Linked DNA regions of Homo sapiens. The protein of the gene in region 1 purifies or fractionates together with the protein of each later gene. This does not show direct contact. Each region holds a gene or a part of one and is shown in the gene's direction. Other genes may lie near its edges. The genes, in order: RGS3, ZKSCAN8 and SEPTIN8.

Region 1 (2,906 bases):
AGTGATCTTCCCGCCTCGGCCTCCCAAAGTGCTGGGATTACAGACATGAGCCACCATGCCTGGCCTCTGAAGGTCATACTCTTAAAAGCTTAGACGAAGAGTCTTAGAACATCTACGGTAATAATAAGAATAACCATTAATGTTTATTATGCCCCGCACTGTTCTGTGTGTATTTCATATGTAATCTAATTTAATCTTTACCACTACTTTTATTTTCCGTTCTGTTCTTTCTTATTGACCTTACCCTTATTTTACACGTGAATAAACTACTGTGCAAAGAGGCTAAGTTACATGGCAAGAAAGTGGTGGGGTTGGGACCTGGAGACCTGGCCTGCTGGCTTCTGTTTGAGGAAACAGCTTGACAGAGAAAAAACCTTGATAGGAAACTTGAGAGATCAGGAAACGTGTCAAAGGGCACACAGCTGGTAACTGCTGGAGCTGGGATTTGAACCCAAGACTAGCTCCAGAGCCTGGGATCAGCCTCCCCTGCAGGACTCTCCTTCATTAGACAGGGTGTCTAGGTCTTAGTGCCATTTTAAGCTTGAATAGCATCAGAAGTATAAATGCTTCAAACTTACCAAACCCCCTTGAAAGTTTAATTATTAAATTTCTTTTGCACGTCTTTAGTTATGTGATTTTTGAATAATCAATTTTTCATTTTCATTTTTGGTTTGAGTCAGCATTTTCCATCTTTGGGAGGATGGAGACCAAAACTTAAAGTGAAACATTTATTATTCGAAAATCACAAAACCATGCACACAACATTAAATAATTAAACTTTAAAATGGTGTTTTTGTAAGTTTATAGGACTTGTACTTCTGAAGTTATTCAGGCTTAAAACTACTAAGATGTTGGGGTCCTGCTGTATATTCATGACTGGATGTCGCCAATGCAGGTGACTGAGGCTGAGAGGCCGGCTGGCAGGAGCCATTCTCTGGGAGGTGCCCTGTACAGGGGGTCTAGGGAAAAGAGGGGCGAACATGAGCAAGAGGCATTTAACTCCTTTCTTGCCAGCAGTTTCACCCAGTGCTGAATTCTGCTGCCTCCTTGGGGACCGGCAAGGCTAAAAATGGTTCTTGGCTAAAAATAGCCAGTCCTGCCACCCCGGTGGTGGGCAGTGCCTCCCCTGGCTCCCTCCTTCCCTTTCAGCAATTTGCTGACTTGTCCCCCACCCCCCACCACTGTCTCCCTGCTGCCATGGTAACGAGGAGGCCAGTCACAAATAGCTGGGACTGGCTTCCTGCCGGGGCGGCCCCAGAGGCTGTCCCTTGCAGACACATGCCCCTTTCACGGCTCCCTCTCAGGGTTGGCCAGAAGGAATTTTTTTTTCCGCTCCCCCTCCTGGTCCCTCCCATTTCCTGGCTCCTCCTGTCTGAGTCCCAGCCCCGGCTTGTGCCTGGGAGTCCAGTCATCAGGCCAGGATTCCAGAGAGCGTGTGTGGCTGCAGCCTGCACCGTTGCTGCCCGCTGCCCAGGACGCGGGGTGGGGGACAGGAGCCAGAGTGGTGCCTCCTACAGACCAATCTGCGGCCCCAAGGTGGGGGGCCCTACAGAGATGCTCCGAGGCATGTACCTCACTCGCAACGGGAACCTGCAGAGGCGACACACGATGAAGGAGTAGGTGCCCTCGACCCAGCTCTCCCGACTCTGGATTTGCAGGGGCGAGTGGGCCAGGCTGAGCAACCCTCTTTTCTGCTTCTGTCCCCAGAGCCAAGGACATGAAGAACAAGCTGGGGATCTTCAGACGGCGGAATGAGTCCCCTGGAGCCCCTCCCGCGGGCAAGGCAGACAAAATGATGAAGTCATTCAAGTAGGTCCTCCCTGGCACCCTGGGACCCTTTGGGGAACTCACTGGCTCCCCGGGGAGTAGGACTGAGTGGTAGGGTTGAGGGGAAGGGGCTTGCCGGCTTGATCCAGCTCTGGGGGAGACAGGCTTTCACAGAGGGAGCTGGGTACCTGGCAAGCAGCTACCCTCACAGGGAGCAGCTGCCCTAGGGGGAAGGCTAGGTGGGGTGGAGATGGGGGCTGGAAGGGACCCTGGCCCCGGGAAAGAGGGTGGGCCTCCTTCCTGGGCGCCCCAGCTGGGCTCAGCTGCAGACTGGGCCCAGGGCAGTAAACAAAGGCCGCCTGGCCCAGCTTCCCCCAAGGTTCCCAAGCCTCTCAGTGCCCTCACTGTGTTTCCTCCCTCACCCCTCAGGCCCACCTCAGAGGAAGCCCTCAAGTGGGGCGAGTCCTTGGAGAAGCTGCTGGTTCACAAATGTAAGTTGGGCCTGCCTGCCCACTCCCTGTGCCCTCTCTCCCTCTCCCCTTCGCCCCCATCCAGACCCTGTGTAGCTGGTGCTAGAGAGGCCGCCTTCCCTCTCCTCGGCCGTCAGGGTGTCCTTGCTGTTGCGGAGGGGCTGAGCCCAAGCTGAGGCCCTTGGTCTGGCCTTGGAGCCAGCTTCTGCCAGCCCCTCCCCGTCCATGTGAGCTGGCACTGCCTGCCGGAGGCCCGTGGGACCTGTGTGCTCAGATCCATATTCCCAGAATAAGAATAAACATTTCTACGTACTGAGGGCTTTCACGGCGCCAAATGTGCCTGCCATCTCATGGGCAGGGTCCCATCGGCTCCTCCCAGGGCTCCGGGAGACAGAATCGATAGTCCCCATTTCACAGATGAAGACACTGAGGCATAGAGAGGGGGAGACCCCACTGAGACCCTGAAAGAGGCAGTGGCAGGGCTGGGGCCACATCCCAGGGCTCCTGGCTGTCGGGGACGGGCATTGTACTCAGCTCCCAGCACGCCCATCTTTAAAGTCCTGTAGGGGTAAGCTGAGGCATCTTAAGGGCAGGAGAGGCTGAGTTTGCCTCTTACCCCAGGATCCGTTCTCCTCACAGACGGGTTAGCAGTGTTCCAAGCCTTCCTTC
Region 2 (3,650 bases), on another chromosome or scaffold:
TCTCTTAAGAAGATAAAGAAGGTAGTGGAAACGAACTTCCTGAGCTTTTCAGGCTCTAATGGCTGAAGAATCAAGAAAGCCTTCAGCCCCATCCCCACCAGACCAGACTCCTGAAGAGGATCTTGTAATCGTCAAGGTAGAGGAGGATCATGGTTGGGACCAGGAATCTAGTCTGCATGAAAGTAACCCTCTTGGCCAAGAAGTGTTCCGCCTGCGCTTCAGGCAGTTACGCTACCAGGAGACACTAGGACCCCGAGAAGCTCTGATCCAACTACGGGCCCTTTGCCATCAGTGGCTGAGGCCAGATTTGAACACCAAGGAACAGATCCTGGAGCTGCTGGTGCTGGAGCAGTTCTTGACCATCCTACCTGAGGAGCTCCAGACACTGGTTAAGGAACATCAGCTAGAGAACGGAGAGGAGGTGGTGACCCTATTAGAGGATTTGGAAAGGCAGATTGATATACTAGGACGACCAGTAAGTAGAAGGAGGTATGCGTGCTATGACTGTGGGAGTCCTGGAAGCTTGGTAGAGGGACATAGGCATCACAGTGGGAGAGCAGATGCTTAGCATCAGTTTCTGTTGGATAAGGATGACAATAGTTTTAGTGTAGTATGACTTGTAGAGTTCTTTTTACTTTTGTAAAGGATATAAATCCATTTTGTTTTTGTCGTCATAACATCCCTACGACTGTATTGTTCTTGTTTGCCAGATGGGAACTTGATGCATAGGAAGCTTAAGTTAATTTTTCAGGGGTATCCAAATAATTAAAGGTAAATTTGAGACCAGAAATCAGGCTTTCTAGTTCCTTATTAAAAGATTTTTCTACTGCATAGCACTGCTTTAAGTTTGTTGTTTTCCTCCTTCCTCTGCCTTAGGAGTACAAAATATTGGTGTTCTGTGTAACAGGGAAGGCATCAGCAGAAATCTTTTCCTTTAGTACTAAGCAAAAATGATGCCTTTCTTTCTGTGCTCATTACGTATTCGTGTTCCTTACTGTCCCTAAGAAGTGAGGAAGATTCTGCTGCTTCCTTCCCCAAGCATATATCCCTGTAGATGTGTTCGTGGTCCTCTTTCATTGTTCATTACATTTCGCAAAGGGATTCCTTATTATCCAACTGTCTGTTGTTTCCAGGTCTCAGCTCGCGTACATGGACATAGGGTACTCTGGGAGGAGGTAGTACATTCAGCATCTGCACCAGAGCCTCCAAATACTCAGCTCCAATCTGAGGCAACCCAACATAAATCTCCAGTGCCCCAAGAGTCACAAGAGAGAGGTGAGTAGCCAGATTTCATTGATGATAAGGGGGGGAAGTACAAATAAAAGTCCATTTGGGATACCTATCTAGTTCCTGAAGAACCAGGAACTAAAATCCTGTTTACAGACCAGTCCCAAAGTCTGTGTTTAAATGTTTAGGCTTCAAATATAGATTATTCTTTCTAGTGGTAAACTCATGAACAAATTAAATAATTTGACTTTTTTTTTTTTAATTTTTTTTCCTTTTATTATTATACTTTAAGTTTTAGGGTACATGTGCACATTGTGCAGGTTAGTTACATATGTATACATGTGCCATATTTCTGTTACCACAGTACATTTACAACATACATTTTTGAGGTTATGCTGGTATTGTCATGCCACTTTATTTGGAAATATTTCAGTATGTATTTCCTCAGACGAGCATTTCTTAGGTAACTTAAATAAATAAATTCCTAAATTTATCACAATTAAGAAATGTAGTATTGCTACAATACTAACCTAGGCCATAGTTCATATTTTGACAGTTGCCCCAATTATGTTCTTTCTGGTTCAGAGTCTAGTCTGGCGTCACACTTTGTGGTTAGTTGTCATGGCTGTTTAGTCTCCTTTACTTTGGAATAGTTCCTCAACCTTTCTTTTTTTTTGAAGAGTACAGGTGTGTTATTTTGTAGAATGGCTGCAGTTTGGATTTGCGTGATGTTTGATCATGTTTACATTGAGGTCATATATATTTGGCAGGAACACCTCACCCTGCCAAGGATACATGACCTAAATCTTAACAAGAGATGTTGTACTCCTTCTTAGGGGTACAACAGGAATTTGTCCTATTATTGGTGGTGTTATCTTTGATGACTTGGTTAAGGTTATTCTTGCAGGGTTAATCATTGTATAGTTACTATTTTTCCCTTTGTAACTAATAAGTAATTTGTGGAAGATACTCTTGAGTGTATTTAAATATCTTAGTCCTCATTAAACTTTGTTGCTAAAACACTAGTTTTAGTGTTCATTGGTACTTCTTGACTGACTTAGTGATTACTAGAATGGTTATGAAATAGTGATTTTCTAACTCTGTCATTCCTTCTACATTTCTTTATTGTAAAGGAGAGTGCTCCCTTCTCCCAATTTTATTATTTTTTATTTATCAGTATGGACTCAAATTCGTATTTATTCCATAAATATTCTGTTACTGTCTTTATTTTGTTTTTGTTTTGTCTTTGAGACAGAGTCTCACTCTGTCATCCAGGCTGGAGTACAGTGGCACGATCTCAGCTCACTGCAGCTTCTGCCTCCCGGGTTCCAGCGATTCTTAATCCTCAGCTTCCCCAGTAGCTGGGATTACAGGTGCACGCCACCATGCCTGGCTAATTTTTGTATTTTTGTAGAGACGAGGTTTCACTGTGTTGGCCAGGCTGGTCTCGAACTCCTAGCCTCAAGCGATCTGCCCACTTCAGCCTCCCAAAGTGCTGGGATTACAGCCATGAGCCACTGTGCTCGGCCACTGTCTTTATTTTGCTAAATCATCTCAGATTTGGCCATAGAAGGCCCCTTCAGTCTGGCTCTTGTATCCTCTTGACATTTTCCCATTGTTTTTTTGAGAATTTTTTTACTTTATTGCAGAATGAGGTGTTCCAGTCTCATCTTCCCCTGCATTTCATATTTTTTCATTAATGTGATTTAGAGTAGTTTATAAATATGAATTTTTAATATTTCTAAAGAAGCATTAAAACACTTAATACTTCTTGTCTAAAGTCCTAAAGCTTGTTACCTGAGATACAGTAATCTATATTTTAATAATAAGCCGTTTAATATCTATAGAAAGCAAATACTGGGAGCCATAGTAGACATTTCAGAAAGGTAATTAATTAATAGAGACTGGTTGATTCTGATACTTGGTTTGCCAAGAGATTAGGACCTAAGGAAATACTGTATACAGCCACAAAGACAGAAGTAGTTTTGATGGTAGAGAAGAAATTGAAAAGCGATTCCTGTTAGGAAACCAGTATACTTTCTATTTTTGAGTGTAACTTCAGTCTGACTTCAGGGACATCGGGGTGCGTATGTTTTGTGGGGCAGCCATAGATATGGCCCCAGAATCCAAGATATCAGCACTTCATGTGCAAAATCTTTGGCATACATGTATATCTGCTGAAATAAAAATAATTTGGAATGGGTGAGTGCCAGCTCCCACAACCACAGGACAGGACTGGTCTCATTCATAGCTCCTTTCTCCTCTCAGCCATGTCTACTTCCCAGAGTCCTACTCGTTCCCAGAAAGGAAGTTCTGGAGACCAGGAAATGACAGCTACACTTCTCACAGCAGGGTTCCAGGTGAGTTGTGCTCCTTCTCACTGAAACGCCATAGCTGTGCTTGTCAGTGTTTGTGGCATCTGC
Region 3 (3,750 bases), on another chromosome or scaffold:
AGAGGGAGATTTTATTTAATATTATATTTTAAGTACAACTTAAAGCCCTTTACTTATGTTATTTAATCCTGTAACATAGGTGCTATACTTGTTCTCATTTTTAGGACCAGGGAAGGGAGGCATAGTTAAGTAACTTGCCTAGCTAAGGTTAAAAAGCTAGCAGGATTCCACCAGGAAGGTTTGCCATAGATCCAGCTACCCTAACCACTGCTCTGCTCTATTTCTTGTAGATAACTTTAATACAGCATGGGAAACAGCAACATAGAGAGAGGAGCAAAGTGAAAACATTGTCAGGAAGGTCCAGCGGGAAGTCAGTCCACCTTGGGGACAAGCTACAGTTTGCCTGGGAGAGTGAGGAGGGGAAAGCCAAATCAGGGTGACAAGGTCAAACAGCAGAGAGGGGGCTCCTCTTAAGCCAGGTGTGCTAAGTCGAACGTGGTCTTTAGGCACCTCCAGTCAGCACAAGTTTCTGAGTAGGAGAAACAGGTCAGGTTGCTTCTCAGCATACTGGGGTGAGGGGTGTGTGTGGAGGGTGGACCAACCTGGGATGAGGCCAGTGGGGGGTAGGGGGCAAACCTTGCCACATTCCCAGAAAGAGCAGAGAGAAAGGCAGAGGGAAGAGAAAGAAACGGGGTTTCAGAGGATTTGGGAGCTGCTTTTGTATAGATTGTCAGTGAGAAGGATACAGAACCTCCTGAGGCCTCCGACCCTGGCGTAAGTGTTAATTTTCTGAACGTTTTGAGCAGTGACATTAGCGGAGAGAACGTGCACGCACTGGGAGTGGTCATCCTCTTTGCACAATGGTGGAACCATTAAGACGTTGTCCCAAGCCCTTGGGACAGGCAGGGTGATGGACACTTGCAATCTGACGCCTTGACCGTCGAGCTCCGCTTTTCTATTGCAGGAATCCCAGCCTAAACTGCGCATCCTGCTCGTTGGTTGCACAAGGAGCCGAAGGCTGGTCCCTTGCCCGGGAAGGCCGCCTGGCCGGACGCGCGGGTCCCGCCGGGGTTCCCGCCTTAGCTCCGGCCGGAGCATCAGGTGGGGCCCAAGACACCCGCAGACTAGGCTGCCGCGGCCTCTCCCGGATCCGACGGGTCTCCCGCAGCTTGTCCACACTCTGGTTGGTGGTCCCAGCACATTTGCAGGCTCCAGCGGGTGGAGACGGCTTGGTGGGGGAGATCTCTAGGGCGCACGCCGTGCCCCACTTCCCCCTTACGGGAAAGGCTTTCCAGCGCGCGGACCCAGGAGACTCTCACCTAGGCTCGGCCCCAGGCTCCAGGGGACACGCAGAGGCCCGCCGGGCACCAGCCCCGAGCCCCCCGACACTGCCGTCCCGGTCCCCCAACGCGCGGACTACAAGTCCCAGCAGTCCCCGCAGCTGGCACCTCCCGCCTCGCCGCGGAGACCCCCGGCCGTCCAAGCGGCGGGGCTCCGGCTGCGCTCGTGGCCGGGCCGGGCGGGGAGGCCGGTCCCGCGGGCGGGGGCAGGGGCGGCTCCGCGGCTTCTCCCGCCGCCGCCGCCAAGGGGAGTTTCCAGGAAGTGGCCATATTGGATCCATTCAGCCGCAGCCGCCCGGGCGGAGCGCGTCCCGCAGCCGGCTGGTCCCTGTCGCTGCCCCTGCGCTCGTCCCAGCCCACCCGCCCGGTGCGGAGCTCGCCATGGCGGCCACCGACCTGGAGCGCTTCTCGGTGAGGGCCCCGCTGGGCCACGGCGCGCGCGGGAGGCGCGGGGCGCAGGAGGGGCCGCCCTGCAGCTGGCGGGGGGCGCGAAGCGGGCTGTCAGCGCCTCACGGCCGGGCCTCGACACCGGGCCAGCTCGAGGACCCCGGCGCGGGCTCTCGGCCGCGCTATCGGGGGGTCCCGGAGCGTCGGGCGGCCTGCCTTGCCGGGCGGCTGGTCGGGGTCGCTTCCTGGGGCGCAGGCAAGGCTAACCCCTTTCGCGGGAAGGAGCAAAGACCCGCCTGGCTCCGGGCAGGTGCGAAGATAGAGTGGCGCCCGCGGGGCCGCAGGTGAGGGTCCGGGACACTCCGGACCCTATCGCCCAGGGTGTTTCTTTCTGCACACTTGGGGAAGAGTCCTAGCCGCACAGGTGCTGCGGGATAGGTACAGCCGGGGAGGATGGAGGCCCCAGGATCCGAGAGAGTCTCCCACACGAGCCCAGGACAGTTGCAGACTTGAGTCCTGAAGACCCTTGGCCTGCTTTTCCTTCCTCCCCCGCTCCCCTCTGCCCCGCTCCCCACGCCGGAATCCTGGGTGCGACTCCAGGCAGGTCAGGCCTCAGTGGTCGGGTCTGCGGCAGCCATTCGCCAGGAGCTGGAGGGATTCCAGACTCAGCCCAGTGGGCGTTTATTTGGGCTCCAGTCCAGGTCCTCAGAAGGTTGATGTCCCTGGTGGTCCCTGCAGGGGTCTCACTGGGCCTGAGCCTGCCGACAGCCAACTTACTAAAGGCTTTCATAATTCACTCGCGGGAGGGAGGCCTTTGGGGGGTTGTATCTGGACATCCCCTGCTGTCTAAGGCTGGATCTGGGTGTGTCTGGGAGGCTAGGCTGTGACAGTGAAGGAAGCTGTGTCCTCTTGCCAGCATGTAAGGCCCTGGTCGGCTGGAAGGGGGAGGAGGGGGAGAAGGAGGAGGAGGAGGAGGGAGGCCCAGGGCTGTTGGAGGGAAGGGGGAATTCTGAATATGTGAACGATAACGAATTGGTTCTGGGGCTAAATAAGGGAGCCAGGACTTATGTAATTAATGCTATAAATACCGTCATCCCAATTTATATATGTAAATTTTCCATTTAATCTGAAAATACATTTCTTATTCTACTTTGGAAATGTGCATGACTAAAGCAGGAGCTCTTGGTTTCATAATTTCTAGACTCGGGTGTTTTATTCCCATTGGAGAGGGGGTCGTATGTCAGTTAAGTAAGTTTAAATACATGAGGAACAGATTCAGAGGCTGGGCTACTCAGAGATTCACTTCGCCCCGTATTATAAATTGGAATTTATGTACCGGAGGAGGGCAGTGCCTGAATCCTAACAGACCTGCTGATTAGCTGGAGGCCAAGAGACCCGTGAGTGCCTGGGTGTCTCTGCATGTGTGTCTGTGTGCATTTTCTGTGCCCAGCTGACCAGAAAGTTATGTCTGGGTCTTGTCTGTGGCCAGAGGTTTAACAGTTGATGTTGCAGGTGGGAGAGGTATGTAGAGAAACCAGAATCAGACAGCCTGATAGGAATCCTAGACACTCCTTGTTGGCCATGTGACCTTGGGCAGGTTATTTAACCCCTTGGTGCTCTCATGCGTATAATGGGATAGAAATATTTCTTCCCTCATAGGGGTATTGTGAGGATTCAACAAGAGAATCCAGGGGAGGTACTTAGCCCTGTGTCTGGCACATGGTAAGGACACAATAAATAATATATGCTACCTATTGTCCACGTGGATGTGAGGACTGGCCCCCTATGTAAGAAGGGAGCAGAGGATGCATTTGCCCTGTTCATGGCACTCTCTGTAGAGCTTCCATCCCTGCTCGTCCAGAGATGGTCCTCAGAGGGTTAGCTGAGAGGCCATGCTGTGGGCTGGTCAAGCCTTCCCCTGGGGTCCTGTGTTTGCTCTCGGACCATTCCTGTGAGGAGTTTTGGTATTAGCTGCGGGGTGGCCAGGGCACAGAGAGGGGACTGACTCAGGCAAGGGCGTAGAGCCTGAGCGCAGGGCCTTGGTTGCTATGCCAGCTTCAGCTGGAGGGATGGACACCTTCCA

Evidence for each region.
Region 2: the proteins of RGS3 (region 1) and ZKSCAN8 purify together in Homo sapiens (co-immunoprecipitation; 3 studies listed by BioGRID and IntAct, with this or other methods). This does not show direct contact.
Region 3: the proteins of RGS3 (region 1) and SEPTIN8 purify together in Homo sapiens (co-immunoprecipitation; 3 studies listed by BioGRID and IntAct, with this or other methods). This does not show direct contact.

Annotation. Positions count from the first base shown.
Region 1 is NC_000009.12:113,592,723-113,595,628, forward strand, and holds part of RGS3 (regulator of G-protein signaling 3), read left to right. Parts: intron 1-1,406; exon of another isoform or gene 1,407-1,554; coding exon of another isoform or gene 1,555-1,616; intron 1,617-1,707; coding exon 1,708-1,809; intron 1,810-2,196; coding exon 2,197-2,258; intron 2,259-2,876; coding exon 2,877-2,906. UniProt on the Homo sapiens protein: Down-regulates signaling from heterotrimeric G-proteins by increasing the GTPase activity of the alpha subunits, thereby driving them into their inactive GDP-bound form.
Region 2 is NC_000006.12:28,148,350-28,151,999, forward strand, and holds part of ZKSCAN8 (zinc finger protein with KRAB and SCAN domains 8), read left to right. Parts: 5' UTR 1-58; coding exon 59-475; exon of another isoform or gene 476-489; intron 490-1,133; coding exon 1,134-1,275; intron 1,276-3,495; coding exon 3,496-3,587; intron 3,588-3,650. UniProt on the Homo sapiens protein: May be involved in transcriptional regulation.
Region 3 is NC_000005.10:132,775,049-132,778,798, reverse strand, and holds the start of SEPTIN8 (septin-8), read left to right. Parts: upstream 1-1,559; 5' UTR 1,560-1,661; coding exon 1,662-1,691; intron 1,692-3,750. UniProt on the Homo sapiens protein: Filament-forming cytoskeletal GTPase. May play a role in platelet secretion. Seems to participate in the process of SNARE complex formation in synaptic vesicles.